Linked DNA regions of Homo sapiens: all the other regions are linked to region 1. Evidence: fine-mapped expression QTL. A gene starts in region 1. Each other region holds a variant in brackets. All regions are shown on one strand. Distances are between the middles of the regions.

The links.
Region 2: its variant is fine-mapped to the expression of DAPK2 in whole blood (TOPMed, PIP above 0.99).
Region 3: its variant is fine-mapped to the expression of DAPK2 in lymphoblastoid cells (TwinsUK, PIP 0.95).
Region 4: its variant is fine-mapped to the expression of DAPK2 in whole blood (INTERVAL, PIP 0.97).
Region 5: its variant is fine-mapped to the expression of DAPK2 in whole blood (TOPMed, PIP above 0.99). The same link has a PIP of 0.9 or more in lymphoblastoid cells.

What each region holds. Positions count from the first base shown.
Region 1 is chr15:64,043,625-64,049,517 of GRCh38, forward strand. DAPK2 (death associated protein kinase 2) reads right to left here and starts at 2,861. Exons shown (of 12, transcript NM_014326.5): 1 at 2,674-2,861. RefSeq lists enhancers at 1,145-1,194, 1,245-1,294 and silencers at 2,495-2,714, 2,745-2,804, 2,825-3,034.
Region 2 is chr15:63,943,355-63,949,247 of GRCh38, forward strand. All of the region lies in intron 4 of DAPK2 (death associated protein kinase 2), which reads right to left. Among named protein-coding and RNA genes, the nearest start is that of MIR422A, 75 kb to the left of the region's middle. The variant T/C (reference allele first, on the strand shown) is at 2,603.
Region 3 is chr15:63,991,652-63,997,544 of GRCh38, forward strand. The region is part of intron 2 of DAPK2 (death associated protein kinase 2); the gene reads right to left. Among named protein-coding and RNA genes, the nearest start is that of DAPK2, 52 kb to the right of the region's middle. The variant C/T (reference allele first, on the strand shown) is at 2,627.
Region 4 is chr15:63,894,768-63,900,660 of GRCh38, forward strand. No RefSeq gene overlaps it. Among named protein-coding and RNA genes, the nearest start is that of MIR422A, 27 kb to the left of the region's middle. RefSeq lists enhancers at 2,042-2,091, 2,292-2,341. The variant C/T (reference allele first, on the strand shown) is at 2,874.
Region 5 is chr15:63,983,846-63,989,738 of GRCh38, forward strand. The region is part of intron 2 of DAPK2 (death associated protein kinase 2); the gene reads right to left. Among named protein-coding and RNA genes, the nearest start is that of DAPK2, 60 kb to the right of the region's middle. RefSeq lists an enhancer at 1,595-2,096. The variant G/GCTGAGAACCA (reference allele first, on the strand shown) is at 3,010.

The DNA.
Region 1 (5,893 bases):
TCAGAGTGCCAGCAATGTTGTTTCCTGATCTGGGTGGTAGTTAGATGGATATATGGGATGATTTTGTATGTGATCAAAATTTTACATAATTTTTTAAAATGAGACTAATGTGAGACAAATGAGATAACCCATGTGTAATGTTTTAAACGGTCCATGGATAACGTGAATTCCTTCCCTCCTCTTTGTGACTTGGAGCCCCATAAGGGCAAGAATTGTGACATTCCTACCTCTGTCCCCTTGTCGTAGGCTAGTACACAGTAGGCACTATATAAGTGTTGGCTGATTTTAACTTAGTTCCCCAGCCTCCTTTCTCAAGGCCGCTACTCAGATGCTCATCAGGTAAAACAACTGATAGCCACTTCAAGCACTTTCCTAACACCTCTCCTAAGGCGAATTTGCATTTTACCAGTTTAGAAACAAACTAAAGGGGTGAAACTGAAGTGGAATTATAGTCACCAGCTAGGACCCAGATAAGGAGCCAGAGGCACAAGGACCTTTCCAGCCTCGAAAAGCTGAAATCACATGGCAGAGGGAAGGGACACAGTTACAACTTTTGGCCAGAAGCACAGGCCATCAGCTCCAGATGCTCCCAGGATGATACCCACCTTAATGCCCATGTTTCTCCTGATGGAGTCCTTGGAATTCAAATTCCTGCCTACAACTCTAATACCAGGCAACACTTCAGGGGGCTACCACAGATTTCCTAGAACCCCATAGATCATCTATTTAGGGATTTTTAGAACTGCTTCAGGATCACCAGGGTGAGAAGGGGAAGCCAGAGCAGTTCCACGTTATCCATACTATATGTTGGCGTTCTGGGTAAGAATTCACTGTGAAACAGAAGTTTGAAAACCACTGCTGTCTGGTCTAACCCACTTGTTTTTACAAGAGGAAGCTGAGATCCAGAAAGGGGAAGGGACTCACTGAGCATCATACAGGTGACCCATCCCGCTCCTCTTCCCAGGGCTTCTTCTGTTGATAGCCACCCCAACTCCTCCAAGATGTCACCAGGGTTGGCAAAGTCAGTGGCCTCCTGAGGGACAAGCTAGGAGGAGGTGTCTAGGGCTGGAAGATCACCTCATAGGAAACTCTCAACACTCAAGAAGCCCTCTCCACCACTGGCCCAGCTCACTCTGCAAAGTGAACTCTCTCAGTTCCTCATCCCACCTCACCAAGTGCAAGTGAGTGAAACGGGACCACAGCAAGAGGGCAGGCAATGGTTGGGCAAAACACACACGACCGTCTCATTACACACACCCCCATTAGGAATCATCACACTCAGGCTCTGGAGAGGCTGCCAACAGAAGGGATGGGGCTCCGGCATTACAGAGCTCCTCTCTACATTCCAGGCTTTGACCCATCACAGTCTCCAATGAGGAAGCTGGGGCCCACAGAAGGTCAGCCACCTGCCTGAGTTGACACAAGAAAAACTTGGTCTCTCTGGCAAAGATCCAGCTCCCTTGGGAAGCCTGCTTGTTCACCCCACAGCTAACAAATCGGGAGGCCTCAAGGAGGTGGGCAGGGTCAGTGCGGGTCTCATTCCTGCCAGCCAGGAACTTACCCCAGAGGAGCAGACCTCCAGCCACATCCACACACCCCTGACCCCTCTGCCCAAGTCTCCTCTGAAGGTGCTGAATCATCAGTGGTGCCACTTGAGGGTGCTCAAAAAACATCTTGGGAGATGAGCGGTTTGGGGAAGGACAGGGCTGTGAAGTTAGCTGTGAAGAGGCCAAGGCACCACGGCCTCTTAGGTCAACAGGACTCTCCCAGGAATATCTTCCACAGAGGCAGTTGGGAGTCGCAGTGTCAGAAACCAGAGTGGCTGCCCTCCACAGGATTCCAGGATACAAGATGTCAGGCGCTGTCCCTGCACCTGCCCGCTTGCCCCCGAGGCAGCCAGCTATGGTGCCCTCTCCTCCAGTGTGCACCACTGCCTTACCATTACCTGCACGGCCTCAACGAGGCTCACCTCTCTGGACCTTGTTTTCTCTTTTGTAAAGTAAGAATACCAATTTCCACCGTGCAGAGTTACGGTGAGGGTTAGCCAGACCTATGCAAGCCTTGGGACCTCCAAAATGCCTAGCCCAGAGTCCTAGTCAACTGTTGGCAACGCCCTTCCAAGCCGTTCCACCCCAACCTGCAGCACACCTGCTGGCCGCCCCCACGCCCATCCTAGCTCTACCCCAGGCCGGGGCGCCTGACGGCGGGGACCCCAGCTTCATTCAGCCCCAGAGGAAGCTCAGACATCTGAGCACCCTCCTCGCATCACATCCTTGTGCCAGGCGGGAGCAAGAGGTGAGAGAGTCAGCCCAAGCTGAGAAGACTTGGCCGGGAGCCGGGCGTGCTCTGCCCGTTCCAGGGGGCCTAACTCGATGGACGTCTGTCTCCCATCTCCCTGCTGGGTGCTTGGCTCTGCCCGCCGCCTCTACCCTGTCTCCCAGGTCAAAGTGCCAGGCTCCGGAGGGCGCCCCAGGGCAGCGGCGGGCAGCTCCCGCGCTCGGGTGCCGGCCACAATGCCCCGGGCCACGGCGTCAGGCATTGGGGCGGCGGGCCCGGGATCTGCGAGCGAGTGCCCCGGATCTCTTCGCCCCGCCAGCCCCAGACCCGGGCGCTGCTGCCGTCAGGCCGCGCGCCCCGTCCCGCCCATCGAGCCCGCAGACGGGTGCTACTCACGGCGGGAGGCTGAGCTGCCGCGGTCGCGGCCGCGGCAGGCGCGGCGGGAGCGGCGGGCGCGGCGGGCGCGGCGGGCGCGGCGGGCGCGGCGGGAACGGGGGACGCGGCGGGGTGCGCTGGGCTCGGCCCTGCAGTCCTCTCCTCCCAGAGCGCCCGGCACCCGCCCGCCGAGCAGCCTAGGAGCCGAGGGGGCGGAGCGGCCAGCCCCGTCCCAGGCGCCGGCTGGAGGCGCGCCCGGCTGCCCGGGACGGGGCTCGGGGCGCCCCCTGCTGGAGCCCCCTCCGGACAGTCCCGGGGCGAGAGCCCAGCTTCCCGGCCGGGTAGGGGACACCTCAGGGCTCCCAGACTCCCGGGAGAGCGGGGAGAGTCGGTAGCAAGACCCTCTGCGCGTCCCTACCGGCTCTACCGCGCACATGCTGCGTGGCCTTGGGCAAGTCGGCTACCCTCCCCCGGCCTTATCTGGAAATCGATTTGAATGAGCTTATACGTATGACATGGTCTGGCACAATCCTCAGAAAATGGTACTTGTGTGCTCCTCTCCCCACCATACACACCGTGAGCGAGGAAGCCCCACTGAGGAATAGGCCGTCTCCTCCCTCCCAGCCAGAGCGCTCCCTACACCGCAGACTCTCCTGGAAACCTCAAGCCCACAGCGTACAGCAAGGTGGGGGCTGCGATGAGAAGGGCCGCTCTGCTCCTCACTGCCCCCGACCCAGCCTGAGAGCGGCCTGCCCTCGTTTGCCCTTTGTCCTGGCACGGTTGCTGAGTGAAGCCCCCCTCTCACCATCACGCCTTCTCTAATAGAGGACTTGGGAATGGGTTCCTCTCTCTGCCCTCTGCCAAAAAATCCCTGAGGAAAAAAGGAATGAGAGTGAGGGGGTGAAGGGAGGAAGGAAGGGAAAACAGAACTTAAGCCAAGTTCATTTGTCTTATTTCAAAACAAGAGGCTGTTTAGAGGAAGCAAATGAGGACCCCTCCAACCCCTGGAATTTCCATCCCTAAGTCACCCATGGGGCTCCTCAAAAGGGCCTTAGATTCAGAGTCCTACCACCAGGTTCAAAGCCCTGCCCTGCCACTCCGCATGTGTGTTCTTGGGCATGGCTCTTTCTTCATCAGTAAAGTGGGAGAAACGCACCTTCCGGTAGCTCCTAATGAAGCTATGGTGGGGCTGAGATGAGATGGAGTGTGTAAGATGCACCTAGAGGACCTCTACCAGTGTGAGCACACACACACCCTTCAGCCTTTTGGACATTGGGACAAATACAGATGGACCCCACCCCCCAGCTGAGCAGTGCCTCCGGGTCCAGGACATCCTCGGCAAAGAGTTCCTTGTTTATAAACTTCACAATAATTCAGAACAGTGCAGCCAGCGAGCCTCCTCTCCTAAGAGCAGCATGATATATAGAGTAATATCCAAGACTAGAGGTGGTTTCTGATGTCAACGGACCTAAGGGAATGACACCCACTGGTGAAGTTTCACCAACATGAGAAGTCCCCCACCAAACTATCCCTAAACACCTCTTCCTCCATTTCCATTTACCTATCACTGGTGACAAACCATTACCAGCCTTGGTGGCACAGGACAACAGTTTCACTATGTTCATGCATTCTGAGGGACAGAAGTTCAGACAGCACAGTGTGTATGGCTTATTTCTGCTCTGCAGTGTCTGGGATTTCAACTGGGAACACCTGAATAGCTGGGGGCTGAAATCATCTGGAGATTTCTCCATTCTCATACCCAGTACCTGGGCTGTGATGAATCCAAGGCTGGGCTCAGCTGACCCTGCTGATCACCTACATGTGGCCTCTCCATCTCTTTCCCTTGAGCCTCATGCTTAATACCTCATTGTCAGCAGCAGCAGCCCCTTACATGAGTCAAAAGAGACATTCTTGGGTTTAGCAATTGACAAGTTAGTCAGAGTCCATTGCAGCTGGAAGGGTCATTGTCAATTGACCCTGGCCACTTTTCAGATGAGGAAACTGAGGCTCGGAGAAGGGAGGTGACTTGCCCAACATCACATAGCTGGTGAGAGACAGAGCTAGGATTAGAACCAGGCCTCCTCCAGATTCAGTCTGGTGCCCCTTCCACTGTACCTGCCAGAATGCAACTATCTAGGAAGCTACCATCTGGAGATGCATCTTATGCTTAAGGTTGGGTGAGTTCATCAGACCCTCACCTGAGGGCAGCGACAGGGCACTGAACACAGGACCAAGGTGGCCATCAGCAGAAAAGGGGAGGCCCCGAGGACAGTGGCAATGAAGACACAAATTCCAGAATGAAGCCAGAGGCAGTCCAGGTATTAAGAGCTAAGAATTATCCAACTCAGTTCCAGTCCCTGCATGGTTCCCATGGCTGACCAAATCGAGTGTTAATGCCTCACCCTAGCATTTAAGGCCCCAACCCTTATTTTCCTGCTGTGTATGCACATTCCCTTCCCTCCTCTGCATGCACATCCAGCTCTTTTGCCAGGTTGGATTATTGGCTGTTCCTGCCTCCATGCTTTTGTTCGTTTCCACTACCCTTCATCCCATTCTACAAAATCTTATCTATCCTCTAAGAGCCTTCTAAAGTATCATGTCTTCCACAGAAACTTCCCTGGTCTGCCCTCTAAATACCTCTCTCCTTTGAACCTCACCACTCTTGGTTGGTACATCTCTTGTCATCTTCCTTCCTCTATTTTAATTAGTGTCTACTTCTCCTTTTCTCAAGGGCAAGTACAATTTCTTGTCCATCTTTGAACCCATACAGTGCTTGATATCCCAAACCCAGTAAAGGTTTCTTAAACTGAATTAAGGAAGGTAAATATCACAAGGGGCCATAGCTGTCTTGTTTTCTATTGTCCCCTAAGAGCACCCAAGCACCTGGCACTTAGTAGATGCTCAATAATCTTACTTCAAGTGCTTCACTTCTAGGGGGATGTCATTATCCTCTTTTACAGATGATGTAACTGAGGCTTGAGAAATTTGATTTGCTCAAACTCATCCAATTTGTAAGTGGCTGAGCTGTGACATGAATCTTGCCTACTGGTCTCTGAAGCTATTCCCTCTGCTGCCTTCCCTCAACTGAAACTTCCAAGATTTCTAAAACAGTGTTAATCTGGAACTTTTCAGTCCAGGCAGTACATCAGAATAACTGAGAATAACATGGGGTGCTTAAAATCCCCCATGCTTAGACTGCACCCTACATCAATTACATCAGAACCTCTGAGGATGAGTTCTG
Region 2 (5,893 bases), 100 kb before region 1:
GAGGTTGAGGCTGCAATAAGTTATGATTGTGCCACTATACTCCAGACTTGGCAACAGAGTGAGACCCTGTCAAAAAGAAAAAAGAAAAGAAACCGAGACTATAACATTAGTTTGTATTATCCCTCATTAGGAACTTTAACCTTTATCTCTCAGGCCCCAAAGTTTGTGCTCCTAACCGCTAGACTAAATGATTCCCCTTCCTTGCTTCTCAGGGGTCTTATTAATCTAGCCCAGGAGGCCGGGCGCAGTGGCTCATGCCTGTATTCCCAGCACTTTGGGAGGCTGAAGTAGGTGGATCACTTGAGGTCAGGAGTTCAAGACCAGCCTGGTCAACATGGTGAAACCCCGACTCTACTAAAAAAAATACAAAAATTAGCTGGGCGTGGTGGCACACGCCTGTAGTTGCCACTACTCAGGAGGCTGAGGCAGGAGAATTGCTTGAACCCGGGAAGCAGAGGCTGCAGTGAGCTGAGATCGTACCACTGTACTCCAGTCTGGGTGACAGAGAGGGACTCTGTCTCAAAAAAAACAAAACAAAAAAAATCTATCCCAGAGAGAAGCAGCAATGCCACTCTGGCCTGGCAACCTGGGGCAACCTCGTGCCTGGCTCAGACACAGCTGTTTTCCTCCTCTGGCACCTGTGTCCTACCCCAGGGTGCCTTTTCTTCTGGTGATGCTTCCATGCAAGTGAGTAGCCCCAGAACCCATCCCTGGCCTCAGGAGCTCCTGAGCAGGAGGTCCTCAAGTCAGATGAGAAAACGGAGGTCCTGGCAGGGCGAACACCCAAGCTGGGTCTGGATAAAAGGATGAAGCCTGGGGGTTTCAGGCTGGAAGGTGGCCGTGGGGCAGTAGGAATGCTCTGTTGGGTCGTCAGGACCCAGGTTCTCGTCCCTACCTTCACCATTCACTTATTGGGCCATTTGGACCAGACATACCCATAGACTCAGACCTGCCCTGATTGGGAGTAAACAGAGGCCATGGCTCCCTGCTATCCAGCCATGTTTCTGCTTCCTTCCTAGGCCACCAAGGTACCTATAGGCTGGCCAGGGGATTTGGGCCCCTAAACCTGAAGCTCTACCTGCTTTCAGACAGGCTTCCTTCTTGCTGTCCCAAGCTCCACTATTAGCCTGATGACAGCCAGGACAGAGGGTAGGGACTAACATTTACAGCATGTTTACTAAGCCAAATTTGATGCTAGTGTTCTATGTGATCCTTGCAGCCACGCTGAGTGATAGGTACTGTTATAAACTCCATTTCACAGATAAGAAAACGGGGCTCACACAGGGCTAAATGATTTGCCAAGGTGCAACAGCTTGTAATGTCACAATCAGTGGGGAGCAGTGGGGTGGGGGCTTCCCTGGCAGTCCAATCCCTTTCTCCCCAACACATCACTGAATCTGGTTAAATATCTTCAGTGGTCCCACTGGCCACCGGAGAAAGTCCAAATGCCCCACCTGATATTTGAAGTAGTCAAGGCACTGACTGCCCCATGCTCTCTTTCCAGCCTCACCACCCATCCCTTGCCTGTACCTGCTCTATATCCCCGCAGGGTGGGCACTACCACTCCACAACGACATCTCAACTCCATCCTTTGCTCTGGCTTGGAATGCCTGTCCTACTCCTCTTCATTTTCAGAGCCTCTTCCCCCTCAACCCTGCCTCCCCTTACTCCCTTACTTAGAGAGAATCTTTTTCTAAAAAAAGAGATGAGATGTTGCCCAGACTGGATTTAAACTCCTGAGCTCAAGTGATCCTCCCCGCTCAGCCTCCTGAGTAGTTGGGATTACAGACATGAGCCACCCTGACCACCCAGCTAACTCCCTTACTTCTCCCTGAGCTTCCCCCAACCCTGTGCTCTAACCCCTCCGTGTTGATGACGCTGGCCTGCTGGCAGTCCTAAGCTGTAGGCTGTCTCTCACAGGTGATGCCACTTTCCTGGGTGGCAGCCTTTTCCCTGAGAAAATTCAAATTGGTTTTAGGATTCCTGGTATCCCCTGTGGCGTCTTGCATCCTGCATGTTCCATTAATATTTGAGGAAATGAATTGAAAGAATCCAGGGCCAGAGGCTCCTCCTTTTCTGCCAGGCCCCGCACCACCACTAGGGGCTCCAGAGTGCATTCCTCCTATAGGGCTGTGATGCGGATGGAGCAGGAAGGAACGGCACTAAGGGAGGGTCCAAAAGGAAGCTAAGGGTCAGCAGAGTGGCAGTTCCCCAGGAATTTGGTCTAAGCTTCTCTGCTTCCACCCTCCCCAAATAGAGCAGGGTGGTGCAAAAGAGCCCAGGCCTGCAGATTGGAAAACTGCAGGTCCAGCTCCACCACCCAAGGCCATGTGAGCTTAAGCAGGCCACGTCCTTTCTCTGGGCCTCAGCCCCCCAACTGTAAGTCAGGCAGTGGATGGCATCCAAAGCCCCTTCAAGCTCTGGGCTCTGCAGTTTCGAGATGGCACAACCTCCCAAGCTGGCTGTGAAAATTCCTACTGCTTTGGGCTCTAAGGCAGGACGTGTAAAGGCGCAGGTCTCCTGGCCCCAGGTCAGGAAGAACAGGCTGCTGCAACCACACACTGCTGGGTCCAAGCCAGAGTGCCCTCTGGGGCAGTCCGAT[T/C]CTATCCATACTCCCCACTCCTGTCATTCTCCTCCAGCTTTATTTACTTCAACCAAATACTTCACCCACATACCTGACATCACCTCCAAAGCACGGCTGGAGGGAGGGGTCACATTCCCACAGGTGCCGCCACTGCCCAGCCCAGGGCCTGCCTGCCACCAGGAGGCAGAAATACCCTTGTCAAAACAAACCCACCCAGCTCATCCCGCCAGGGAGGCACCCATGGGAGAGGCCAACGTGCTCCTTTGTGTCCTGGGGGATCTGGCCAGAGGTGCCTGCTGTGGTGCCGACCAGAAGGTGGTTGTCCGGTGGGGCACCCATGGCCTGTGGGCCCAGCACAGCGTGTCCTGAAGTCTGAGCAGGATGAAGACACCCTTGGGGGGCTATGTCATAAAGTACAAAAGACAAAGGCAAGTCTGGGTTCAAATCCCAGCTCTGCTGTTCACAGTATGAAAACTGGACAGACACTGGAGCTCTTAGAGGCTCAGTTTCCCATCTATAAAATGGGGGCAAAACCTACTGAGCCACGGGGTTGTTCTGTGATTGAGAGAGATGGTTTATGTAAGGAGCAGCACCCAATGAGATTTCAGACAACAGTGGCTATGTTTGCTCATTCTTTTCTGGGATGCAGCATGAACAGTCATCCCTGGGAGCTCACAATGTTGGGGCTGCAAGGGACCTCAGAGATCATTTAGTCCCTTCATGTCAGAGCAGCCCAGAGACATCAAGAAACTACCAAGGTCACTGAGCAAGGACCTCCAGCCCAGTGCCCTCTCCAGATGCCCGTGTGGCCTGCCTGCTGCTGAGTGAGGCTGCTCTGCTCAGCAAAGCAGAGGCCCAGCCAGGGCTGTGCTGTGGGGACAAGGAAGCTGCCTACCAATCTTCACCAGCCATGTCAAGCACAGCCCCAGATTATTCAGGCAGTGCTGGGCAACCTGAGAAAGGAAGGCCGCTCCATGCTAGGCCTCTGTGGACAGGTTTTGAGGGTGCTCAGCTCCCTGTCCTCACACACTGTCGATGGGACCACAGCCAGCCCCTCCCCACAAGTCTTCAGTGTGGCCCATGCCCAATACGTGCCTCTGTGTGGCATTCAAGGCCCTGCTTCCCCACCTCCTACTCCCTGCCCGCTTTCCCTCTGCTACCTCTCTGCTACCTCTTCATCACCCCATCCCACCCTGCAGTTCACTCTGCTGGAACAGCCTTCCTGACAAGCTCCTTCTCCCCCTCTCCACCCAGTTCCCACACACACTGGAACTTCTTCTATGATCTCCCTCCCCTCCAACACACAGCTAGTTGTCCCCAGCTTGCACACACCTCTGGCAGAGAATCAGCTGCACTACAATTCCTTCCTTACATGTCCTGTCCCCACTATACTAAAACCCCATAAGGAAGGACAAGGGCCTTGCCTTTCATTTCCATCCCCAGCACCCAAGGGCGGCTGGCATTATAGCAGGGCCCAGTTACTGTTTACTGGACAAATAAAGAAATGGGCCAATGCGGTCACATATGCATCTCTCACACATCCTGCTTTTGGAGAATATAGATAATGGCTAAGCATGCACGCCTTGGAATCTGGGTTCGGATCCCAGCTCTGCCATTTATCAGCAGCCTGACACTGGGCAAGTTATTGAACCTCTCTCAGCATAGGTTTCTCACCTATAAATTAGGAATAACAATCATAAAACCTATCTCAAGAGGGTTACTAGGAGGATCAAACAAGGCATATAAAGTGGCCTATAGGTGTTATCATAGTCTCTGTGACTATTTCCTTGATGATGTCTCTCCTTCCCAGAATGAGAATCTTTATCATCTGCCTATTGAACTCCTAACCACATTTCCAGGCCCTGCCCAAACCTTCTTTCCTCCAGAAGCATCATTTGGATATGCAGCCCAGCTCTTCTTCCTTCTCCCATCTCCATTCATGCAACAAGCTTGATCCATAGCACCAACCACCACCAAGAGCTCTGTGAGTGAGTCTTGCCTTCCCCACTTGTATTAGTCCATTCTCGAATTGCTGTAATGAAATACCTGATGGGCGCAGTGGCTCACGCCTATAATCCCAGTACTTTGGGAGGCCGAGGTGGGCAAAGCACCTGAGGTCGGGAGTTCAAGACCAGCCTGGCCAACATAGCGAAACCCCATCTCTAAGAAAAAATGCAAAAAAATTAGCTGGGTGTGATGGCACACACCTGTAATCCCAGCTACTTCAGAGGCTGAGGTAGGAGAATCGCTTGAACCTGGGAGGCAGAGGTTGCAGTGAGCGGAGATCACACCACTGCATTCCAGCCTGCATGATGGAGTGAGACTCCATCTCAAAAAAAAAAAAAAAAAAAAAAAAAAAAAGATTTAACTGGTTCATGGTTCCATAGGCTGTACAGGAAGCATAGCAGCTTTTGCTTCTGGAGAGGCCTCAAGAAGCTTACACTCATGGCAGAAGGTGAAGGGAAAGCAGGCACATCTTACCTGGCCAGAGAAGGAGCAAGAAGGAGAGAGAGGGGAGGTGCCTCACACTTTTAAACAACCTGATCTTGTGAGAACTCACTATCATGAGAACAGCACCAAGGCACTAAGGGGAAAATCCGCCCCCAAGATCCAGTCACCTCCCAACAGGCCCCATCTCCAACACTGAGGATCACAATTCAACACGAGATTTAGGTGGGGACACAGATCCAAACCATATCACTGCTAGACTGCACACTGGCTGAAGGCAGGGCCTGCTTCTCACACTCCTCCTGCGTTCCTCCACACACGCAACCTAGAGGTCCGTGTAGAACAAAACTTGTAGCACTTCACAGTTTACAAAGGAGTCACATGTGTCTCATTTTGTCACAGTTTACAAAGAAGTCACATGTGTCTCATTTTGTCCTCACCCTGTGAAGCAAGTGCTGTCTTGCTTCTGACCCCTGTAAAACTGACCCCAGTTTTACAGATGAAGAAACCAAGGCACAAGAGATCGTTTGCCCACACTGCCTCAGCTAATAGGTAATGGAGCTGAGATTCAAGCACAGGCTGACCCCAAATCCTGTGTGCTCTCCACTCTCCCACATGGCCTCCCCTCCTCTAGCTGATGCCGGCGTGCCTTCTGAAATCACCCTTGCCTGCTGGTTTGCCATTTCCAACCTAGCTCTGGTGCCTCATCAGTTTGCTGTGCAGCTCCATGTTTTTCCCAGAAAACCCACAGTTGTGGCTTAGGAAAGGGCCTGAACTCAGTTGCACTTGGATTTGTTAAACCACAGCCTCTGGCTACTCACCCATGACTGCTTCCTCCTCTGGGGTAGGCCACTGTGTGGC
Region 3 (5,893 bases), 52 kb before region 1:
GAACACAGTTTGAGAAGTACTGCTCTATAGCATGGAAGCATAGCATGCTCTAGATGATCCCAAAGAAGTTTCAAATCATAAATGAAAATGAAAAACAGAACATGCAGATGCTTCTCAGTATTATTATCTAGTCTTTTAGGAAGTCACTCCAACCAAGCCGAACTCAGGGTCAGCGGTGAGGAGCACATGTAGGCTAAGTACCAGGAGCCAGAGTCTCCAGGGAACTGACTCCTGACCTATAAATGGCCCCTGTCCACAAAGTCACAGGTGGCTGTTCTGTATGGGCCTGCAGCAGCTGCTTTTAGAGGCTGGCTTGTTTCATTCCCAGGTCCTACAGACTAACTTCCTTCCTCTAGACATTTTTTTGTTGTTGTTGCGGGGTACAGGGAGTCAGAAAAACTAAAGCACAAAAAGGAAGGAATCACTTAGCAGGGCCAAGCTGGGCTAAAGTATGACAACTATTTTTTAACTTAAGTACATTTTGATGCTGTTGTCAAATGAGCTCAAGCCTGCAAGTCTAGGACCTGAAATAAGTTAGGCTCAATTAAAGTTTGACTTGGCTACGTAAAGAAAGATTTTCACTGAAAATATAGCTCAGTATCCTCTGATATTTCCCTTAGTCTAGAGTCTAGATTCTAGACACTAAACATGATGTAGGTTACTGAGGAAATGCTGGGCTTGGAAGGTACCACCCACCACCCACCCACCTGCCCATGTACTCACCCAACCATCCACCCATGCATCCTCCTAACTGTCCACTCACCTATCCATCTGTCTCTCATTTACTGATCATTGTCCTAAGTGCTGTAAACAAGACACACCTCACAACTTGAAAGGCTTATATAGTCTATTGCAGAGATTAGACAAACGCAGATGAAAAGGAAATATAGCCTGGGCATGAAAGAACTATCTGCAACAGCTGGAGAGGCAGGGAGTGATACACAAGCACTTCATTCTGTGGAGGCCCCAAATAACCTCTCACCTTCACTCCCTCCCTATCAGGTTGTGGCCACTTTCTCAAGGAAATACATCAGGAAGCTGAACCTGCCCTTTCCTTTCCTCCTTGTGGGAGCACAGGGAAGGAGAGAACAAGCAGTCAAGGGACCAGTCGGGCTCAGTTGGGTCAGGCACCCTTCCCACCATCTGAGTTCCTGACAGTCAGATGTATGTTTAACAAAAGAACTTCAACAGAGCAGGTCAGTTTGCTCCCTCCTAGAAATGCCAGCCAGGCCCATAGCCTGGGCAAAGCCCAGGAGACAGAACCAAAGGATAATACCTTAAAAACGAGCTTGTGCTGCCACGCAGGAAAAAGACTGCAGAAAGAAGATGGGAAAATCCAGGATGGTTTGAGGCTCTCCTGTTACTGTGGGGGTACAGGATTACCCCTCATAAAATGGTAAAGTGAACCATTCATGTTCTAGAATACCTCCCTCCCCACTTGCCCTCCCCTCTCCTGCATCCAGCCCGCCTCCTGTGAACTTTCCACCTCTTCCTGGCCCACAACCCCCTGTGATCTTTCCCATAATTCATGTAAGGTGACAAAGGATCCCTAAGGGTTATCCTGACCTCCCTCCAAAGAAACACCTTCACAGTTTAACACTATTTGTGACCAAGAAGGGGCTTGAATAGTGGCAAGTTTAGGCACACATGGGGCAAAGTGGTAAGATGACTTGGAGATAGAAAGGTCTTTTTACTTTCCCAAGATTCACATTAAACAGGTGGCTCTGCAGAGGGCTATGTGTGTCTGTGTATGTGAATATGGATGGTGTACAAATCATAACCAGTTATTTCTTGCCCAATTTTTTTCTGTCCACCAGGATCTTAAGGCCTGAGAGATTCTTGATGTAAGAATCTTGTTTTTCACTGATATAGTCAGCTCTTAGCCATCTAGGATGGATGGTCTCTGTTTCTCAAAATGTTTGTGAATTTTTAATCCCATGTTTATTTCTTCACCATGACTTGAAAATGCCCAAGATTGCTTGCCTCTCCCAGACATGCAGGGCTGTGAATGGGGAAGACTACATATCACGGGCAAAGTACAGGGTTAGGGGTCCTGGCTCTACCACCAACTTCCAAGCTTCCTTTTCCCTTGGGGCCTCAGTTTTCTCATCCAAAAATGAAGGATTGGACCAAGATATCTCTTTCAGGTCCTCATGCCAATCCCTGTTAGAGTCTCTGATGCAGGTCAGTGTGTGACATACTGTATCACAGGTATCATATGTTTCATATTGATACATATGAAACATTCCACAGACACACACGGTGGTTTCTGGGTTTCCTACCGCACAGGGCCCAGCCATGGGTCCAGGCTACTGACATTGATCTGTCACGTGTCAGCCAACTAAATTTTCAAAGACAAAGGAGGACCAGGGCTTCAGGCAAGGAGAGCAGATCTCAGGGACTATCTTCATGGCCAGGAAAATGCTGAACTCTCCAAACACCACAAAAGTATTTCTATAAGAAATGACCTGGGCATTCATCTTGGCACTCAACTATAAGCCAGCCTGTAAGAGCCTGGAGAGTAAGAGGTGTTATCTTCATAACTCTCACAGGGCCCACCTCAGCACCCGGCACAAAACAGGTATTCAGCCAGTGTTTGTAGAAATGATGACCTAAGCTGAAGAAC[C/T]GGGAAGTGTGATAAAGGGCCTTGTCATCCTTGGCTGGCCCCCAGTGCAGCAGGAACCCTTCATTGGCAGACTCACTTACAAATAAAACATTCTTGATTGTTTTTGATTAGAAAAAGAAGAATGTTAAAAGAAAAGGAAGGAAGGAAGGAAGGAAGGAAGGAAGGAAGGAAGGAAGGAAGGAAGGAAGGAAACGCACAAAAAGGAAGCTAAAAAATGTTCCTTAGTCCCACCTTTCTAAGATAACCATCGTTATCATCTTGGTGTCTGCCCCTCAGATGTTTTTCAGCACATACTGAAATCTTTTTTACTTTTTTTTTTTTTTTTTTTTTGAGACGTAGTCTCCCTCTGTCGCCCAGGCTGGAGTGCAATGGCTCCATCTCGGCTCACTGCAACCTCCGCCTCCCGGGTTCAAGCGATTCTCCTGCCTCAGCCTCCTGAGTAGCTGGGATTACAGGCATCCGCCACCATGCCTGGCTAATTTTTGTATTTTTAGTAGAGACCAGGTTTCACCACATTGGCCAGGCTGGTTTCGAACTCCTGATCTCAGGTGATCCGCCCACCTCAGCCTCCCAAAGTGCTAGGATTACAGGCGTGAGCCACTGTGCCTGGCCTGTTTTTTTCATTTTTTAATGTAAGTGAGATGGTACTGTAGATACTATTTTGAAGCCTGCTTTTTAAAAATTCTCCCCTTAACAATAGATCATTAACATCTCCTCATATAATTAAAAATTATTTTAATATCTAATTTTAAATGGCTGTATAATATCATATTATACAGGTAAACCATGGTTTTTAAAGCAAATTCTCAATTTTGGACATTTATATCATTTTCAATTTTTAATATTATGATACTGTTATAAATACACACATGTATAAATCTCTGCATACATCCCTGGTTGTTGTTGTTGTTGTTTTCTTTTTGAGACAGGGTCTCACTCTGTAACCCAGGCTGGAATACAGTGGCACAATCATAGCTCATTGCAGCCTCAGCCTCCCAAGTGGCTAGGACTATAGGCGCCCACCACCACACCCGGCTATTCCTTTTTCTTATTACTTGTAAAAGCTCTTTATGTATTTGTGATATTTAACCTTTTGTCAAATATGTTGAAAAGATTTTCCCTAACTGATTTTCTTATAGGCCAGAGTGGTTATGGGTTTATTGTCTAAAGAAGCTATAGGTCTTTCTCAGCATCAGAAGGTGGTAACAAGTTTTTTCCCTTCACTTCGCCTGCCTGTTACTTCAATCACCCAACTGCTGTGTCTTAGGGCTACTCTGAAGGGAGCAATTCTGTGCCTCAGTGACTCTTGCCATTGCTGGTCACATTGTTGGTCACTCCATGCAGGGTATACCTTCAAACTTACTGCACGACCCAGGGGACCCACTGCCATCCCTTGTCCCCCTGACCTGGTCCTTTCCTCAAAGTCACTGCACTCTTGCTCCGGGCAATGTCCCTCCTGTTAGCTGACTAAAGGAAGGCATGGCATTGGAGGGTGAGCAGGTCCTGCTGCAGAGCGTGCCTGGTGCCCCCAGGGTGGGCCACAGCTGTGAGGCAACCAGCACAAGACCCCTTTAGAGAGGCAAAGCATCTCTCCTGACCCCAAATTATTCAGCATGTGTGTAGTGTCCTTTACAGTAGGACTCACATGTTGGCTTTCTTTCAGAAATTACCAGAAAGATGTTTGTCTACCTCATTTCAGATAATGAAAATGATGTCATCTATCTTATTTCCTTTTTGTTATCTTGGTACCAAATGACAACAACTATGATGACCTAGATGTTGGGTGTATTTCCTCCTTCTTCCTTTGCACCATGGATTCTCAAACTTGGGGGCATATCAGAATCATTTGGGGAGCTGGTTAAAAATTCAGGCACAGCCAGATGCAGTGGCTCACACCTATAATGCCAGCACTTTGTGAGGCTGAGACAGGAGGATCACTTGAGGCCAGGAGTTGAAGACCAGCCAGGGCAACACAGTGAGATCCCATCTCTACCCTGCCCCCCAAAATTGTTTTAATTAGCTGGGCATGGTGGCATGTGCCTGTAGTCCCAGCTACTCAGCAGGCTGAGGTGGGAGGATCATTTCAGCTTAGGAACAAGAGACTGCAGTGAGCTATGATGGTGCCACTGAACTCCAGCCTGACAACAGAGCAAGACCCTGGCTCTAAACACAAAAATATTAAAAATAAATAAAAATAAATGAGACACCCGGGCCTTATTACACATTTGCTAAATCATACTCTTCTGGAGGGCATCTGGCTTTTGATCTTCCACTTTTATGTTTGCTTTCTATGTGCCTCTCATCATAGGTTGCCTCAAATTCTTAACATGCATGAGCAAGAGGAATCATAAGTGGTTCTGTGCTGCCATCACTGCAGCGTTCACTCCAGGACACGAGCATGGAGAAATACAGTGGGCAGCAGAGCACGACTTCCAAAACGGAGCTTAGCCCATTTCACAGACGGCTAAAGGGAGTCCCAAAGTGTGAAAGGCTTTGCCCAAGGGAGGACTACTCAGGCAATCATGTACAGCCGATCCTAATGGCCAAGTTCATTGTAGAGCAAAAAGCATTTATCACAGGAATGAAATGGTGCCACCCCCATCCCCCTCTGCCCCCACGCTTGCAGGTGGCCTATTCCCTCATCCCCACCCTCAAAAGATTTGGCTTTAGGTCCACACCCAGCCTTTCTGCCCACAAGCCTGGAGGGCTGGGTGGGGACAGAAGGAACAGGTCCAAGTCCTCTTAGAAGCACATCTTCCTCTACACCTCTCCCATCCAGCCCTACTCCCCAGCAGACACCAGAGCCTCTGTCAGGCAAGCGGCTCAGAGTGCAACTGTGCCATCTCCTCTGTCATCACCACCCCCAATTAGCAACTCCCAGGTGCCTTCAGGGTTGCCACTCCTGCCCCACTCCTCCAACTCTGCTCTAAGCCATTACAGGCTTTGGCACTGCCTGACAGGTTTCCTTCAAGCCTAATTGTCAGGGCGCAGGAAAGGTATGTGTCAAATCCAACATGATTTATTTGTCCTTTGTCTACCCCAGCTGCAATTTATTTTATTTTATTTCTGAGACAGATTCTCGCTCTGTCACCCAGGCTGGAGTGCAGTGGCACGATCTTGGCTCACTGCAACCTCCACCTCCCAGGTTCAAGCAATTCTCCTGCTGCCTCAGCCTCCCAAGTAGCTGGGACTACATGTGCCCGCCACCATGCCTAACTAATTTTTGTATTTTTAGTAGACATGCGGTTTCACAATGTTGGCCAGTCT
Region 4 (5,893 bases), 150 kb before region 1:
GTTTGCCCTGGGCTCTCCTGGTTTTAGCACTGAAAGTCCCATGTCCCATGAAACCTCTCAGGTCCCAGGCAAGCTGGGACAGTTGGTTACTGTAGTTGGGAGCGTTGTTAGTGATATCTCCTCCCATGCTCGGGTCCATCTTCCAGCTGTGATTGCTTTTTGAGGATGCAGCAGCACCTGCGGCCTCTTCCAGGCTCCCCCCACCTCCCCTCTCTCCCTCAGCTCTCGGGTTGTTTTTCTAAAGCAGCACATCAGAATCACCTGGAGGGCCTATTAAAGTACCCTCAGAGTTTCTGATCTAGGAGGTCTGGGAGGCAGCTGGAGAATTTGCATTTCTAAGTTCCCAGATGACCCTAATGCTGCTGGCCAGGGACCACACTTTGAGAACCCCTGATCTTAGCCACAGCTCTGATAAAGTCTCACGAAACCTCTCAACCCTCCCCATAGCTTGCTGAATAAAGGCCTAAGCCTGGGTTGAAGCCCCTCTTTATCTAGCCCCCTTCCCCACCGCAGCAGGCCCCACCCCAACAGGGTGCCCCGCGTCCCCAGGGGATACCTTGCTCTCTCCTACCTCTGTGTCTTTGCTCAAGCTGTTCCTGGCCTGGACTCTGCAGCCCCCTCCACCCATGTGAATCCTCTTATCTGTGAAGCGCACTCAAAGGCTACTTCCTCTGGAGGCCTGCCTGGGCCCCCATCCCTCGGAACACAGGACTCCTTCCTCAGCTCCCAGCTTAGCGCCTATTTCATCCTTGTCACTGCACTGTGGATTCCTTGAGGACATGAACTATCTTTTCCCATCTTTGTCTCTATATTTGCTAAATAGATATGACCCCAGAAGACAGAACCAGGACAATGGATGGATCTGCGGGGAGGCAAACTTGAGCTTAACCTGAGAAAGAACTTGTAACAACCTGAACAGTTTGACACCAGCCCTTAAGGGTCCTGCCAAGAGATCCTGAGCTCCCTGTCGCCCCTGGGCATCTTCAGTGGTGTTGGACGAGCATCTACAAAGTCTCTGAAACCCCTGCTTAGACCAAGTACTGACTACCTCAATGTCCCTCCTGGGGCCCTCTCTCCCCAGGAGAACCTGACACCCCCCCATCAAACCCGCTGCCCAGCATGCCAGACCCACAAGGCCCCACAGGCTGGCTGGACCTTACTGGAGACCAGTGGTCACAGCAAGTGTGACATTTTGTCAGTGGCCTTCACTGTCTGAATACAAGGAGTGACCAGTGGTGACACCCTCCTGCTCCAGGCCAGCCTCCCTGCCTTCCTCTGATCACCGCCTCCCCCGAAGGACCAACCCCACCTCGATGTACTCACATCGCCTTTCCTTACCTCATCCATATCTCACGTGGCCAGGGGAAGCAGCTCATCTATGGGCAAGCTGAATATCCACAGGTGCGCTCCCAGCTCGGGCTCCTTAGGAACAGGAATATCCTCCTGCAGAATATTCTCCAGTGCCTTCCCCATGCTGGGTGCATGTAAATGCTCAGATGTTCATTTCCTGATGTGCGTTTCCCATCGATGTCCTGCTGGAACCCTTCCCTCACAAGTGGTGCTCTCCCAGGTGTGCTCCAGCGGGCAAATGCCCTCCTCACCCCTCCCCATCTGATATTAGGAAAGAACCTGTGAAACCCATTCCAACCAAGAAGCCTGGGACTGAGGCTTTCTGCCCCTGCCATCCCTGGGGAAACGTTACTGTTTAAATCCGATAAGCGTGAAAGCCTCGCTTGATTGCATGGCAGCTAAGCATACTATGTGTAGTGGTGTTTATTTGCTGATTGGTTGATTTGGAGAGGAAGGAGAAGGATTTTCCAGAGTCTAGACTCTTATGGCTTTGTGGGGCTTTCCAGGGTCAGCATCGATTGTGAAAGTTTGGTGAGCTTGGCAGTTTGTATCATTTAAGAAAATCTGCCCGGGCTTCCTCCCCCACCAGGAAGTGTCCCATCAGTTCCAAAGCCCTCAGCTTAGTTATTGGAAAGGCCTGAGAAAGCCACGACCCAGCGGACCCAGCTGGGGAACACCTGGGTCTCAGTTCACCTTCTGCCAACCTCTAGGTCTTACGAGCATTCCTGTTTCCTCTCCTTCCCTGGGCTACTTGAGGTCATGACCTTCTGAAAGAATGCAGGGTCAGCCAGCCTGGCTGAAATTTCCCCTCCGTGGGTGTGAAAGGCGATATGTCCAACTGTGAACACACAGGGCCCACATCCTTATGACTCAGCAGATGCGGCTGTCCTCAACCACATCGCCCAGAATGTCACTCTGACCTGCCTCAGAGGTCTGACAGCAGAATAGATTCTGCAAAGCCTGGGCCCAGGAGGCGCTTTCTCCATGAGTCCTTTTGGACAACACACATTCACCCAGACACACACTCAGATGCACACACACACACACAGACACATCCACTACAGAGACAGATGTGCACACACTGATACCCAAACGTACCCCAAACGCAGACACGCGGACATGCACAGACACCCAACACACACATGCACACACAGGCCCCCGGACAGTCAGATACACACACAAAGACATCCACACACACAAACACCCAGACACATCCACACACGTCCACACACCCCACAGAGACATGTCCACAACGGGTGCCTAGGTATGCCCAGAAACACACAGTTACCCGAATACAGCCAGACACACACACACACACACACACACACACACACACACACACACACACAGACTCCTCCAGAGGACTCAGGAAGAATCAGATCTGTCCCGTATGCCTGACCTTGAATGCCTCTGCCAACCCCAACAGATGGCCACTGGCTCTCCGACAGGGCCCTCTGGTCTCTGACCAAGAACCAGGGTCACAATGGACAGAGAAGGGGAAAATGGTAGAACTACTAATTCAC[C/T]ACCGTGCAGTTAACCCGCAGAAGTCTCATTCTTTCATTTAATTGGTAGCTTTCCAAAGTTCAGCCACGAGAAGGCGTAAGGACAAGCAATCAGAATACTAACCCATAACTTCCTGTCCCTTCTCTTAGCACCCATCCTTTAAGGCCAAATTAAAGTCCACCTTGTTCATATAGTCCTCCAGATTCCCAGAGTTAGAAACCGCAGCTTCTCCCATGCGCCCCTCATGTCATGCTTCTTGGTCTCTTTTTTTTTTTGAGATGGAGTTTCACTATTGTTTCCCAGGCTGGAGTGCAATGGTGCCATGTTGGCTCACTGCAACCTCTGCCTCCCGGGTTCAAGCGAGTCACCTGCCTCAGCTTCCCAAGTAGCTGGGATTACAGTGCCCACCAGCATGCCCAGCTAATTTTTGTATTTTTATTAGAAACAGGGTTTCACCATATTGGCCAGGCTGGTCTCGAACTCCCGACCTCAGGTGATCCACCTGCCTCAGCCTCCCAAAGTGATGGGATTACAGGTGTGAGCCACCGCGCCTGGCCCACCATTGATTTTTTTTTTTAAAGACGAATTGAGTACCAACTGCTCTGTTCACAGCTTTCTTTTCCTTTTTGTCTTTCTTTAAGAGACAGGTCTCACTGCAGTGACTATTCACAGATACAATCATAGTTTGCAATGTAGCCTCCAACTCCTGGACCCAAGCAGTCCTCTCGCCTCAGCCTCCCAAGTGGCTGGGACTACAGGTGCACCACTGTCCCCAGCTGACAGCTTTAAGGTGAGTGCAGTGGCTGTGTCAGTCCATGCCTGCCAAAGGAATCAGTGGAGACAAAAAGAAGGAGCAAATTCAAACTTTCCTCCTTTTGCCCTCTCTCCTATGTGGGTTCAGATTCTTCAGGAAGCAGATGCCAAGATGGGATGAGAAGTGCTGGAGACCTGGGGTGTGGGATGAGGAACGCCTATGAAGGATGAAGGGGAAAGGAAGCAGGAGTAGGCAAGGGAGAGCTTTCAGGCCATGATGTAGGTGTGACACCTAAGGAAGGAGGGTGGGAAGGAAGGAGGGCTGGCTAGGAAGTGCCTCTGATGGCAGAGCAACCCAGAGAAGGGCTCAGCCAGGTGATGAGCAGTCCAGGGGCAAATATTAGAAGGGTCCCATGCTGGGCAGGAATGGCCTGGTTCGAGTACCCGCCGCGTGTCTCCCATCCCACCATGCTCAATCACTGGCCAAAAGCAGCCTACGGAGAGTGAAGACCTTGTGGCTACTCTGAGAATGCTCTGAGAATACCTGGGCTGGGATTTTTATTCCCCTTTTAAGGAGAAGGGGTAGAATATACCCCTGCCCCTCCCAGCCCTGCCTCCTCAAACATCGCCTCCTCTTGGAGTTTGAGTAAGGACGTGGGTCTGAGGACAACTTCCAAGGCCAACTGGGCTGAGTTTGCCAGCTCATGCTCCAGGTGCCTTCATGTCTCTTTGGACTTAAACCTACAGGCTAGAACAGTATTTGAAAAGTCAGCTGGCACTTAGCAAACTAATACAACACCCTGAAGGGGTGGCAGCTGGGGGCCAGCAGTGAATAGCACTCTTTGCTGCGGGTTCTCTCTTGAAGGCACTTCCGGGGCTGCCACACTTCTTATCTCCTTCCCTCCTTCCTTCATTCCCTCCTTCATTCCCTCCCACCCCACCTTTCCTCCTCAGATCTTCATACCATCTGCCAGGCACCAGCACACTGTGGAGCCCCATAAATGAACTGACACAGTCCTTCCCTTCAAAGAGCTCCCATCCAGAGCTTCCTCTTGCACCCACAGACGGGAAGCTTGCACGACCTTCCGTCAGGCTGCCCGGCCCTTCCGGACAGATCTTCCAAGCACCTCCACCACCCTCTGTCTTGCCAGCCAGCCCAGAGACAAACACTCAGTGCCTGCTCACAGGGGCAAAGTGTGTAAATAAGTGAAGCAGCCAAAACAATGAAACTCTTTGGCTATTTGAAGTATATTTCTAAGTTTCAATGGCAACATAATTCTTCCCAGCTTTTTCTTCTTTTTTTTTTCTTCTTTTCGAGACAGAGTTTCGCTTTTCTTGCCCAGGCTGGAGTGCAGTGGTGCAATCTCAGCTCCCTGCAACCTCTACCTCCCAAGTTCAAGTGATTCTTCTGCTTCAGCCTCCTGAGTAGCTGGAATGACAGGCGCCCGCCACCATGCCTGGATAATTTTTGTATTTTTAGTAGAGACAGGATTTCACCATGTTGGCCAGGCTGGTCTCGAACTTCTGACCCCAGGTGATCTGTTCACCTCAGCCTCCCAAAATGCTGGGATTACAGGCGTGAGCCACTGTGCCCGGCCTTCCCAGCTTCTTTCTTACCTTAACCCCCCATGCACCTCACTTTTATCCACTACTGTCTTGAAATTAACAAATACTTGTTGGGATGCATCATAAAATAGTATTTCATCTATAAAAACGAGTGAAAAAGGCAGATACACACCAACCACAGCAGAGTTACACTGTGGAGATTTTTTTTTTTTTTTTTTGAGTGGGAGTCTCACTCTGTCACCCAGGCTGGAGTGCAGTGGCATGATCTTGGCTCACTTCAACCCCCACCTCCCGGGTTCAAGCAATTCTCCTTCCTCAGCCTCCTGAGTAGCTGGGCTTACAGGCACACGCCACCACGCGTAAGAGGTGAACTACAACGTCTCTATGAAGGAAAAGTCAGGCCCTGGACTCCACAGACAATCAACTCCTGAGTAAGAAAAGAGGCAGGGTGTCCAGTGCCCAAGGGTGCCTGGAATATAAAGCCTACAAAGATGCTTGTCTCTGCCCTGCTGGTGGTTTGGCACACCTGACCTCATAAACCAAAGATAGTCTGTGCCAGGCTGGGCCCATAGCTCCATCTCCCAGGGGTATTCAGAAGCTGGATGTAAAACAGGAAGGCAAAGTACTTACTTTTTTTTAAATGAAGAATTAGATTCACATCAGTGTATGGGCTGAATTAGGTCCCCACCAAATTCACATGTGGAAGCCCTAACCCTCAGTA
Region 5 (5,893 bases), 60 kb before region 1:
GTGATTCTGCCAGGACAGGACAAATCATGCCACCAGTCTGCATCCCCACCTGATGACAACCTGTGGATGAGATGGGGCAGGGACTGGGCTTCCCTTCTGTCCATTCCTTCTATGAGGAATGAATGTTAGTATTCTTAGTCCCAGTGTACAGAGGTGAGCACTGAGGCCCAGAAAGGTTATTGATCAGGATGACATAGCCTTGTCATTGCAAAATCTCAGCTAGAACCCAAGTCTAGGACCCACCAGATGAAATCACAATGTCCATAAGCAGACTGGGCTGGTGGGGATCCAGGTTTGGGTAGAGTTTGGAGAGGAGGCAGCCTAACAAGGTTAATCATCATAGTGGGGGAGCATCACAGTCAGAGGACTTGGTATAAACAGAGAGTTGTACAATTAGGAAACTGAGGCATAAGGATAGGTCATGTGACTCGCCTGAGGTCATCGCAGAGTTAATGGCAAAGCCAAGCCTCAAAGTCAGATACCCAACCGGCTGTCCACAAAGCCTCTGAGATAGTTAGAGCAGTCTAGACCATTATTATTCCCCTTCAGGCACTAGTACCCAGGGCTGGGCTCAGAAACCCATTACTCCAGGGACAGAGACAGCAAGCATGAAATGGAGTCCATGGCAGAGTGGCAGGCAGCCCTGAGCCAGCTTCCCTGAGTGCTCCAGGGGCCCTCCCCACAGGGAAGGGCACCAACCACCTGCTTCTGCACCTCAGTTCAGTGACCAGCAGGAGCAGATCTAAGTCCTCAGAGACTTCCCAGTGACCATCTTGCCCGGGGGTCCTCCCGTCCCCTTACTGCCATTTGCCATCATTGCCCCATGTTTTCTTGCCACCCAAAATACCCACTGCTTGAGTAACTCAGAAAGTTTTCTGGTTCAGCTTAATGGCTCAATAAGGGGCCAGCAGACTCCAGACTTAAGAGGTACACTCTTAGTGGCTCTGGGTTAAAAGCTACATACAGGGAAATGCCTGGGATATTTGCCCCAAATGCAGAAAATAGCAAAATAGCACTGCATCTGAACCACTCCATCATTAGCATCATCCTCAGTGAGACAGTCTTCAAAATACCCGGAGTGGCAATAACAACAACAAAGTCAAGTTCAGCAAGCAACAGATACATAGGCCAACACTTAGGTAGCATTCTATGGCAGCCACTTCAGAGACGTTCCCAAACACAAACTCATGCATCTCTCCATTGCCTTAATCTCCATTCAATCAACACTGTCTGGGCATCCAGTCTGTGCCAGGATCTGTGCTAGGCACTACGGGGCAGGGACCAAAGGCACAGACAACAGGTACAGATGGAGCTCTAGGGAAAGAGAAGATCCTGGGGGCTGGACTGGGCAGAGAAGGCTTTGTGGAGCCAAATTTATCTTACATCGTCCACTGACTCTAAATTTTTAGCTATTTCAGTTCCAAATATTGGCTCTGAGCTGTGCACACACTAAGGGCTGACGCAGGTGGAGTGGAGCCAGGCCTCCCAGAGCCAGAGTGAACACATTCAGTGTGAACTCTAACACATATGGTCTCTTGGAGCCACTCTGGGCCTCGAGGACAGCGGGTGCCTTGGTAGGTGCCAACAAACACTTGACCGAGCTTCCAGGCCCGGGTGGCTCTGAGTCTCAGTGTCAAGGCAGCCACACGCCTCTCCTCTCCGACACCTCAAGCAGCCGCTGGCAGGGCCTGGCATTTCAGAGTCCCTGTGACCTTGTCACAGAAGCCCTGAGTTCCTACTTGACCTGTGGGGAAAGCAAAGCTTAAGGGTGGTAAGGGATACACTTAGGTTTACAGAGCACATAGGCAGTGGCGCAGGGCTTGGCTTGGCATCCAAATCCCCCAGCTCCCAGCCCTGCACTGTGTTGACAGCCTTAGGACTTGTGAAACGGCAGAAGGGCTTTTGTAAACTAGAGCTAAACATTTCAGGCCATGTTGACGTTGTTTCCCCTTCCTCTTATGAGGGAAACAGTGGCATTTTTTTTCTATATCACATGCCTGAAAAATTCCTCAAACTCTCAAAAAGCAAATGAGTGTTTGCTTTTCCTGCCTGAGTTTTCTCTTTGCGAGACAGCTGTGGCAATGAGTGGTGACCGGGGCAGGCCCACTGCACAGGCATCTTTCCCTCCCCAAAAGGAGGTATTTTGAGAGTGGGTGACTACGATGGCGCCAAATACCACACACCACCACTCGTCTCACCTGTCTTCACTCAGGCACAGCCCTCTGCTCAACCTGTAGAGGGGAGCCTCAGAGGGAGCCAAGGCTGCTGGCTGGTGTCCCCCACTCCTTGGGCTGTTTCCAGAAGAGCAGAGAACACCCTCCACCAGACCCAGCCCCCAGGCTTCAAGATCAGACAGGCCTGGCCTCAGAGACTTATGCTTTCACCTGCTCTGAACATAGATTTGCTCATCTGTCAAATGGGAATCAGGGTTCCCTGCTAGAGAATTGTGAAGACTGGAAATATTTGTAATGTTGGCCCGTGGTACTCAAAAGTGGTTCATGTGAAGGCTGAGCAAGAGACATCCAGAGACATAAGTCACTGATTCAAATGGTCTGGAATGTGAAACCAAGGAATTGGTTTAATTTTATTTATTTTTAGAGATGGGGTCTGGCTCTGCTGCCCCGGCTGGAGGGCAGTGGTGTGATCATAACTCACTGCAGCCTCAAACTCCTGGGCTCAAGCAATCCTCCCAACCTCAGCCTCCCGAGTAGCTGGGACCACAGGTGCCTGCCACACCACCCAGCTTCAGTTTAATTTTAAAAGCACCACCCTACCCCGCCAATGATTCCCACGCACAGCCAGATGTGAAAATAGCTCTATTCCGAGCAAGTAGCCAACTCTTTAAATCCTAGAGCAGTGGTTCTCAACCCAGGCCACACATTGATATTGCCTGGGGAATTTTAAAACTCCTAGTGTTTAAGTCTCACCCTGAGAGATTCTGATCTCCTGGGTCTGGGCCTGAAGATGGGGCTATTTAAAAGCCCGCTGGGTAACTGACATGCAGCCAGG[G/GCTGAGAACCA]CTGACTTACAACAGCTTTCTGATTATCTCCATTTCACAAATGAAGAAACTATACCACTGTTACTCATACTAGTTCCTCATTTTCAGTATTACACTTCCCCATAGTTCTCTGATCTGATCATTTCAGGAAAGGAGTAAAGAAAGGGAATCAGAGGGGAGGGGTTGTCTCTCCCATCAGCATGATTTTTGCTTGAGGGGTTCACCAGTCTAACTGCTGTGTTATGAATATGCAAATCAAGGCAGAAGATTACTCTAGCTTTCGGAGGATAACAGGAGTGAAAATTTGCAGTCAGGCACTCCCTGGCCACTGTACTCAGCAGATGCACAAAAGCAGAACCTGAGGTGGCTCTAGTATGCCCATCAGAGGGCCCAGCCAACCCAAGGGCAGGTGACAGCAACAGGCCTTTTTCTGCACACAGAAGGCTCTGCAGCCAGAAGTTGAGGTCCCACAGTGCAGAAGTCGCCAGCTAGGCTACAGGGATGATGGGTGGGAGGCGAGGGTCTGTCTACTTTAGGACAGAGCCACCCAGAATGTCATCCAGGGAGGGAGCAGAAGGGAGCAATTCAACCTCTAATGAAAGTCATTGCTAACACTAAATCAAAAATGATGGGAATACTGGAATCTGGTATACATATGCAAAGCACACATATTCCAGTATCTCTGCCCCCCATAGCAACAATCAATACCTATGCATGGTCTACTGCAGCACGGGGCTGGTAGGAGGCCCGATTCCTCGTCCTAATCTGCTATCAAAGTTTCATGGGCTTGACAGGGAGCTGCCTTTTCAGTTCATGTTTCTCCATCTGCCATCCCAGGTCTCATCTTAGAAAGCTTCCTGTCAGACAGCTCCAAAGAGCCTGGGACAACTCTAAACAGGAATGAAGCCCTTTCTCTTCACTCTCCAAATTCCTAACTCTGGGCTGGTGTCAGGAGACTGGGAGTCTAGTCAGAGCCCTACCACTAACGAGCCAGGACCCTGGGCAGCCTGTTCAACTCCCCAGGCCTCAGTTTCCTTCTTTGTCACATGGGGATGATAATACCTGCCCTGCCCACTTCCCAGGGTTGTTTGGGAAATCATGAGGTAATGTCTGAGATAGGACTTTACCATCCAGCCTTGCAGAAGAGCATGAGGTGTGGGTGGGTGGGAACTCTGTGCCTGAGACTGGCTTGCAAAAGTCACGTAGGATGGTTTCGTGAGGGACAGTAAATCCTCAAGATACAGAAAACACCCCGCTTCTGCCAGCACACTCTCCTGCAATTCTGTCAGGAACACACCCCTCTTCCCAGGCAGAGGACTCAGCTCCTCACTCACTCAGCACCTGGGAGGACAAGTGGGCTGTGTCAAGATCAGTGTCACTGGCAGATGGGCCTCATTTCCAAACTTGTCAGGCCCCCAGGTGCCACCTCATAAGGGCTCTCTAGTTGTCTGCCCAGGACTCACATTAAAAGGGGTATACCTAGAACAGCTTCTCAGTGCTCAGAAATGTCCCCAACCTCAGCTCTTAAGGTTCATGGAGGAGCCTGGCTTAATCCCCACCCCCCAAAGTCTTCACTGTCAAGGGTAAATAAACAGGGCATGAACCAAATGTCACACCACGGGATCAATTTTGTATAGCAATGTGAACATTACAACATTTACATCCAGCTTTTCCTTTTTTTTTTTTTTTGAGCTGGAGTCTCGCTCTGTTGCCCAGGATGGAGTACGGTGGCGCAATCTCGGCTCACTGCAAGCTCCACCTCCTGGGTTTAAGTGATTCTCCTGCCTCAGCCTCCTGAGTAGCTTGGATTACAGGCACCGCGACCATGGATGGCTAATTTTTTTCTATTTTTAGTAGAGACGGGATTTCACCATGTTGGCCAGGCTGGTCTTGAACTCCTGACCTCAAGTGATCTGCCTGCCTCAGCCTCCCAAAGTGCTGGGATTACAGGCATGAGCCACCGCGCCCGGCCAGCTTTTTTCTTAATGAGCTAACTTCATATTCATTCTCTTTTTCAATATTTGCAAGTATCATTTTTAGTTCCATTTCACAGATAAGAAAACTGGAGAGGTATGGTGGCTCACACCTGTCATCCCAGTGCTTTGGGAGGCTGAGGCAGGGGGATCACTTGAGGCCTGGAGTATGAGACCAGCCTAGCCAATATGGTGAAACCCTGTCTCTACTAAAAATACAAAAATTAGCCAGGCATGGTGGTGCAAGCCTGTAATCCCAGCTACTTGGGAGGCTGAGGTATGAAAATCACTTGAACTCAGGAGGCAGAGGTACCAGTGAGCCGAGATCATGCCACTGCACTGCTGCACTGCAGCCTGGGTGACAGGGTGAGACTTTGTCTCCAAAAAAAAAAAAAAAAAAAAAAGCCAGGCAAGGTGGCACAACCTGCAGTCCCAGCTACTCAGGATGCTGAGGTGGGAGGATGGTTTTCAGCCCAGGAGTTTGAGGCTACAGTGAGCTATGATCATACCACTGCACTTCATACCACTGCACTTCAGCCTGGGCGACAAGCAAGACTCCGTCTCTAAAAAAAAGCCAATAAAAAAGAGAGAGAGAAAACTGGGCTTAGAGAAGTAAAGTGACTGGCAATTGGGCCAGGGAACAGGGCTAGGACACAGATCCACGTCACTGACTCCGGCTACAATGAGGCTCTCGAGGTAACTGACCAGTAGTGTGTACCAAGTAGTGAGGAGAGGGGCCCATCCCAGAAGAGAACAGTATTCGACATTGTTTTGAATTGCTGGCATGTGGTGATAGTAAAAAGCAGACTGATTTTTACTCGATTTTATTATCGGTTTGTTTGATTTATTTATACATACATACACACACATACATACATACACACACACATACATACACACGCACATACATAGTCTCGCTCTGTTGCCCAGGC